Homo sapiens: one gene and its partner. The protein of the gene in region 2 purifies or fractionates together with the protein of the main gene of each other region. This does not show direct contact. Each region holds a gene or a part of one and is shown on either strand. Other genes may lie near its edges.

Region 1 (3,753 bases), on a different chromosome or scaffold from region 2:
ATCTGTCAGTCAATCTGTAGTATTAACAGCCTTTCATTCAATTCTTTTTAACTTAGATTATCATGCCAAAATAAACCTCTTTAGTCGTAAACCTCTTTATTTCTAACTACAGAAAATTTATATTTACCTTTTTTTGAGGAAACAACCGGCTTCCATAAAAGTATCTTTTTTACTATAAAGGGATTAAGCAGTAGAGAGGAGTAAAGGCAGAAGTATTAATTCATTATTTCCTGGGTAAAATTTTGAAAATGGGAAGCAATGAAATTCTGTTTGGTATTAAAACATCTTTAAAAATTACAACACAATACGAGCAAAGGTGGAAATTTACCCCAAGTAGCAGACCAGCACATTTTAAACACACAAGCAAGAGCCGCCTCTGGCCACATGTTTTTTTGAGTTCAGTCTCTTAAAGAGACAGTATACGTAGACCAATGACTACACGGAGCACATTTCTAAAATGTTTATCAAGCATCCCTCTATTGCACGCATTTCTTTACAACCACATTAGGCCAACAGTGTTCTATTTTATTTTACTATGAAGTCAAATTATTTTGATCTGAATCTACAAAATGATTACAGGACAGGCAGCGATGAAATAATAAAGGGAGCTACTGTGACTAGAGGTGTCTAAAATAAGGCAATCTATACATTTCTTTCCACAGCAAACTGTTTCGCTTTGTTTTTTCAACCTTAAAATGATCATGTTTCTTCATTTTTCTACCCATTCACCAGATACAGGCGACAAAGTATATTGTATAGGTAATACCGGAAACAACAAGAACACTATTTCGCTGTAGAATGAAGCAGGGGGAAATGCTAATAACGTCAACCTTAATATATATAGTGAAATTTCAAATATTTTCTTTTCTCTTTAGACAGAAAACCCAGGAAAAGGCCCATACACGTACCCTAAACGTTGGACTACCTAGTGATTTCAGGGAAGATTTTGTCTTTCAATATACCGAAGGACATCTTATCGTACGTCTATTGGCATAACTACCGATCAGCTCCTCCACATGGAAAAAGATGAAGAGGGGGACAAAAAAGTTTGGCTTACTTGGTGTACAAATACATCGACTGGAATATCCAAGGGGCTTCCCTCTCGGTTTATCATGGAGATGAATCCAAATCCCATGCGCACATTGAACCACTTACAGTGGCCAGTTCCGCGCAAAACCTGGGATTCCTCCTCTGCCGGCTCCGGCAGCTTCCCGGGCTCTTCTCCACCACCTTTGCTAGCCCCGCCTGAGAAGGAACAGGACAAAAAAGTCAGTCTGTATTCCCATTCAATGTGCATTCAAAGATTAAAAAAAAAAAATTGCCTGCCTGGGGTTGGGGGGGAAGGGTAACAGAAAAAAAAAATTTTTTTTAATGGTTTGATTTCTTTTCTCCACAGAAAATACTTAAAATGAAAAGGGTTAAAAGGAAAGCGGGGGAGGGGGAAGCCACACTGTTCTATCGATCACACCAACTTCCACGTTTCTATACATACGTGTACTTATTCATTTAACTCCATTTTTCAGCCACATTTTACATTACAGCATGCGATACTTTACTTGTATATTGCTGATTTAATACTGATCCCATTGACAAAGAGAAATTTTCAGCGAAACTATTCTCTCCGGCGGGCACGAGGAGGAAAGAGAAATCGTGAAGATGGTTTAGAGCTACTAGTTAAGGCACATGGGGCAGCACTGAATCCAGCGTTATTTGCAATGTGCATTCCCCTCCCCCCCATAACTTTCAATTAAAGTTGGGGTGGAATGGGGGAGGGGGCAGGTGTATAAAAGTTTTCTTGGAATCACTAACTGAAACTGCGCTTAATCACACTCACACAATTCAAACAATAGCCCCCTGAAAGCTTTTCAAGTTGTGAATCAGTGTGGGCGGTACAAAACATTTTTGGAGATCTATAACAATAGGTTTGCAGAAAGCCCCACTGCGTGATGGGGGGTTGGGAGGTAATGCCCAGTATTGGGGTAAAAGGGGAAGGGGGGGACGGTCTAAGAAGGGTGGGAGAGGGGGAGGGGGAGGAGAAAAGAAGAAAGAAATTCACAGTAAAACAATAGAAAAGAAAATTAACCTTCGGCCATGTTGCCCCACGGGCCCTCAGCTCCAAACTCGTGAGATGAAAACTTTCCCTTTGGAACGGAGTGATCTTCTGCATCAATCTAACATCTTGATTTTGTGCGATCACAAATTTAGCTCGCATGGTCTAATGTGCTTTCCTTCTTTTGATTTTTTTCTCTCCTCTCTCCAGTTTCTGGCCCCCTGAGCACACGTGACTTTGTCAATTACATGCTTTCTTGCTACTAATTTCACCTCGTATCCTTAAGGGGCTGGCAAGAGGAAGAGATAACCAATCGCCATTTCATCTATGCTGACATCAAAATAATTTATGAATGAACACGAAAAACTCAAACATGTTATCTTAAAGACAATTTGGAACGCTTCTTTAGGATAAATCAGAATGCTGATTTCGTGCTTCTACTTAAACACAATGGAGGGACCTTGTGAATCATAGATTTAGAAAAAAAGGCAGTCATATATGTGCACACGCGTGCCTTACACACAAGCCTGACTAAAATCATGGGAGGGGGTCGTTTAAATAAAACAACCGATGTTAACGCTTTTTTTCCCCTTAAGAATTCAGCTATTCCATGGCAGTAAACCTGCTTGGAACGCTAATTTCATATTTAATTCAATTCTTAGAGGAAAATATATAATTTATAAAAGATCTAATTAAACCTAATTACATCCCCATGAAACTTTAGATAATGAAAACATACACCTAGGAAAAGGCAGAGGCACATAAATTACCTGATTATGCCCGAAATTTTTTCAAATTTAAAATAAAATCCTACTAGAAAAATCGTTTTCACCTTCATATAGTCAAATTGTGTTTAGGTAAACCATTTTGGAAAATTTTAGAGGGGGTTGGTAAGGAATTGTACTTCACAGGTTTCTCTGCCATCTCTTTCCGGGGGAGGAGATGTGATTAATGACTTCCTAAATAACAGCCCAGTTTTCCAGCCTAACATAGAGTGAACCTCAATCAGTGGCGATTGTTCCCCAAGAGCTGGAGGACATAGGGCAGGAGGGGGAGGGGATCGCCAGGCAGGGGAGGTGAAGAGGAGCCGCCAGGATAGGCGGCAGCAGAGTCAAAGAAAGAGGTGGGAGAGAAAAAAAGCCGGCGCGGGCAGGGGGTGGGGTGGAGAAAGAAGGACAAGTGGGAGAAAAAAGGTAAATTCATATCATATTGACTTGTACCCTGACATTTTAAAAGTCCACTACCAATGGCTAGAAGAGTTGAATAAACGAAAATGTAACAACGGATGAAGCTCCTACTGTCCTTCCTCAACTGACCCCCAGTTTCAAAATGCCTACCCCCTTTACCTTTCAAACTGGTTCAAACGATTGATTACAAGATGCTGGCAACAGTATTTCTGCCCTTATCGAATACTATAATAAATATTATAGATTAACTAAAAAGACTTTATTTCCTTTAAAATATAAAATATCGCTATTTTAAAACCTTAAAATGCACCACCAGACTTGCCTACCCCACCCCCCATTTTCTTAAACAAGCAGTTTACCAAGAAACTAACTGTTCAGATACCACTTCCTTCGACAAAGCTACCGAGTTGACCCTCCCCCACCATGCCAGCAATCCCCCTCCCAGTCTCTTCAAACACATCCACACTCCAGCACTGTTTCACACAAGCTAAAATGTAGGGATTATGAATCGAAGAG
Region 2 (3,653 bases):
CATATTTAATTAACATGACTGGACAAATTCACCAAAAAAGCTAGTAAATATCAGGTTTTCAAAGAATATCTAATAAAAGTAGAGAACTATCACAATACAATGTTAAATTAAAAAAGGAGAAAAGAATGCATGTGACATGATTTCCATTTTGTGTAGATAAAATATGAAAATACATGTAGATGCAAAGAAAAATATAATAAAACAATAATTTTCTGCTTGGTAATTTTCTGAATTTTTCCAAATTTTCTATAATAGACATGAATTCATCTTACTATCAAAAATAATTAGAATATGTAGTTTTATTATACTTACATTAGCCACCTTTTCAACATAAGTCTTCATTGTTTTCACAATCACTTTCCTGTCCTTAAAAAGGAAAGATTGTCTCACTGAATTTTCAGTTATGTATTAAGGGTATTTTGTAGTTAAACATTTTAATATAATATTTATTAAGTTTTCATTTGAGTGGCATATGTTTTCATTAGTAAAAATAATAGTTATACAGCCAGAACAAAAAAACTGTAATATACCAAAGAAGTTGGCTTAGAGCTATTACAAGCTTAGATGTGTATGTGATAGGGTTAGGGTTAGGGTTAGGGTTAGGGTTAGGGTTTGCAAGCCACCTTTCACAGTGAGACCAGACAGATCCTTCTTCCAAGGTCTAAACTGTCCTCAAATGCAGAGTCTAGCAAACAGTTAGTACTCATCTGCATTTGTTGAATAAAATTAAATTTGCATTAAAAAAAGTAGATATAGTACAACTATCTTTTAAAGGCAGAATTATGCTGACCAAGGAAATAATGATAATTTCTGTTAAACTTCTGTGATTAATAAGGATCTTTACCTTTTCCCTCAAGTACATAACACCTATGGGAGCAAATGTGTGTGGCCAGCTGTTTGTTATCTCTTCCCATTTTCCCCTGCCACAGTATGATCATTAAAAGAGGAGGTACCAAAACCTCTATAAACTAAAGCTTAAATACATATTATGTTTACTTGCTTGATAGATCTCTTCCCATCCTTTAATGAAACTTCAAGGTTTCTACTAAAGCAGAGGAAAGAAGAAACACTAGGCCTAAAGAAGATGGCTCATTCCCATCAGGCTCTAAGGCACAACTTTTGGAAGATAATGCACAACAGGGCAAAGACCAAAGGGGGTTAAAAGTCTAAGGACAGCTAAGTCAAGCCTGCAGATAAAGCATGGCCCTGACTTGTACAGTTTAAATGCCCAAGTGCTGTCACACTTACCTTGGGCGTGCCATGCCACAGGCAGTGCATGGCCACTCTGGCGCCATCGTGTGTGTGTGCCAGGTAGACCACCGCTTCGCGGATGGCTTCAATCATTTCCTAGGGAACAAATGCTGTCAGGAACAGGGCTCTGCTTTATTTTCTTCTTTCTACTGTTTTATCTGTCTGTCTACAGGGGGCAGTTATGCAGAGAGAAGGAAAGGAAGAGAGTGCCAGGTAGCAAACAATTTCATTTTGTAGACAATCAAACAGAAACACGAGCTCTTTCTAGAAATGTTCTTTTCCATCAAGAGCAGTAAATACTGCTGGCAGACAATATCTATTAAAAACAATACCTGACTTTTACCAATGTCTGTTAAAAAAAAGGTCAAGCTATATGTGTAATATAATATATTCTAAATAATTTTCCAAGAAAAAGAAGCCTAGGAGGTGGTGGTGATAAGAAGGGAGCTTTTAACAGAATAGCGAGACAAAGAAAATGCTCTTCCCCAAAAGAGACCTGTATGCAATAAACAGAATCAAAACACTCATTTTGACTGAAAAGCTTCCCTTTTCAGTTCATAACTGGATTATCTCCAAAAATCACATTCTTTACCATAAACACGCTTACATAACATTTCCTCATGAAAAATTTCTATACTAACATTTAGACTAAGACCTCACCTATAAAATGACCCTTTAGTAAAAAACATTTAATTTCTCACTAGGTAGCTTAGCTTAATTTAACCTTTAGCCTTCATTTTCCATGTATATAATTTCTTATTTACATTTTCTTTTTTTTTTGGAGACGGAGTCTTGCTCTGTCACCCAGGCTGGAGTGCAGTGGTGCCATCTTGGCTTACTGCAACCTCCACCTCCCAGGTTCAAGCAATTCTCCTGCCTCAGCCTCCCGAGTAGCTGGGGCTACAGGTGCCCGCCACCACCCCCGGCTAATTTTTGTATTTTAGTAGAGACTGGGTTTCACCATATTGGCCAGGCTGGTCTCGAACTACTGACCTTGTGATCTGCCCGCCTCGGGTTCCCAAAGTGCTGGGATTACAGGTGTGAGCCACCGTGCCTGGCCCTATATTTTCAAAGTCTAAGGCATGTAGGATGTAAATGAGTTCTGGCAACTAACAAGTGCAGAGCTCCATTTTAGTCTATTCCCAATTTAAAAATGTACATTAAATAAATACAAAGCCTCATGCCACGAAAGAGAGGGTAGGTGCCTAATTTCATCAATAAGGAACAAACAATTTCAGCCTCAAGTATCTAACAATCCCTTCCCAAGATGACTCTCAAGAGCAGTTTCAACTAACATATCTGAACTTAGGAATCTCTTCAGAGCTATCCAGATGGAAAGCCATGCATATATTCCAATTATGCTTCCATTTTCCCCGAAGGTTTTTTTTTTTTTAAGTCTCTTTTGAAAATGCCCCCAATACCAGAAAAGACAATTTGTCTCATTACTTTACACGCATGCTAAGTTCCAAATGATTTTTTGCTGTTACTGAAACATTCAACACTAAAAAGATACTTTCTACCACTGAATATATTCAAATAATCATTGTGTCATTTCTGAGCATATAGTCCTGCCTCAGAACCGTGGGATACTGTATTTTTCAGGAAGTAAGAAAAATCTCCAAAACAGAAGGTGCTGCTATGGTCATCAAACCATAAGCTTACGTGGGTGGCTACCATCAGGAAATTATTTTGCATGCCAATTTTAAGAGGGTCAAAACTCCAATGAATGTATAGTCTGGCGTTATTTGTTAAGTCAGTCTCATTATTTTCATTATCCCTTGTGATTGGAAAATGAGGACAAATGGACAATGAGCTCACTGTATGATGAGGCAAGCAAAGTTCAGGGAACTAAATGATGAATTCTCATTTGTATTCCCATGACTGACTTGAAGGGCAGTGCAATTTACCTTCACTCTGTTCTTCTATGATATAAAGTCCAGGTTTTCATCGTCCACTTAGTTTTACAAACATATCCTCCTCTAACCTTTTAATGCCAAGCTAATTTTTTTTTTGTATTAGCACAGTTGAATTTAAAACTATCCGAATGCTTGAATATTCCTCCACGAGTTAGTTAATTTTCAGATTAGGTTAGCCAGCGGATACTCTCTGGATTATAATTAAGATATAAAAATTTAATATGATTAGTAAAACTAGGGTCAATTCTATTGTTTACTGGAATAAAACCTAAATGGAATTAGCAAACGTGTTCAAAGGGAGTTGAGTAAATTATCTTCCCTAAATAAGGAAGCAACTCTAAAATTTCCACAAGACAACGTACATCAAAGCAGTTTTTCAAATTTCTACACCGCTCCTCCTCCATGTTTTAGTTTAAAAACAAAAACCAAGAACTTACTGATCTGAGTTTGGGGGGTGCATAGGTAAAAAAGTCCAAGAATACTTTA

Evidence for each region.
Region 1: the proteins of PUM3 (region 2) and LIN28B purify together in Homo sapiens (affinity purification with mass spectrometry; one large-scale study listed by BioGRID and IntAct). This does not show direct contact.

Annotation. Positions count from the first base shown.
Region 1 is NC_000006.12:104,955,591-104,959,343, reverse strand, and holds the start of LIN28B (protein lin-28 homolog B), read right to left. Parts: upstream 2,238-3,753; 5' UTR 2,094-2,237; coding exon 2,084-2,093; intron 1,246-2,083; coding exon 1,058-1,245; intron 1-1,057. UniProt on the Homo sapiens protein: Suppressor of microRNA (miRNA) biogenesis, including that of let-7 and possibly of miR107, miR-143 and miR-200c.
Region 2 is NC_000009.12:2,823,469-2,827,121, forward strand, and holds part of PUM3 (pumilio homolog 3), read right to left. Parts: coding exon 3,605-3,653; intron 1,348-3,604; coding exon 1,249-1,347; intron 367-1,248; coding exon 313-366; intron 1-312. UniProt on the Homo sapiens protein: Inhibits the poly(ADP-ribosyl)ation activity of PARP1 and the degradation of PARP1 by CASP3 following genotoxic stress. Binds to double-stranded RNA or DNA without sequence specificity. Involved in development of the eye and of primordial germ cells.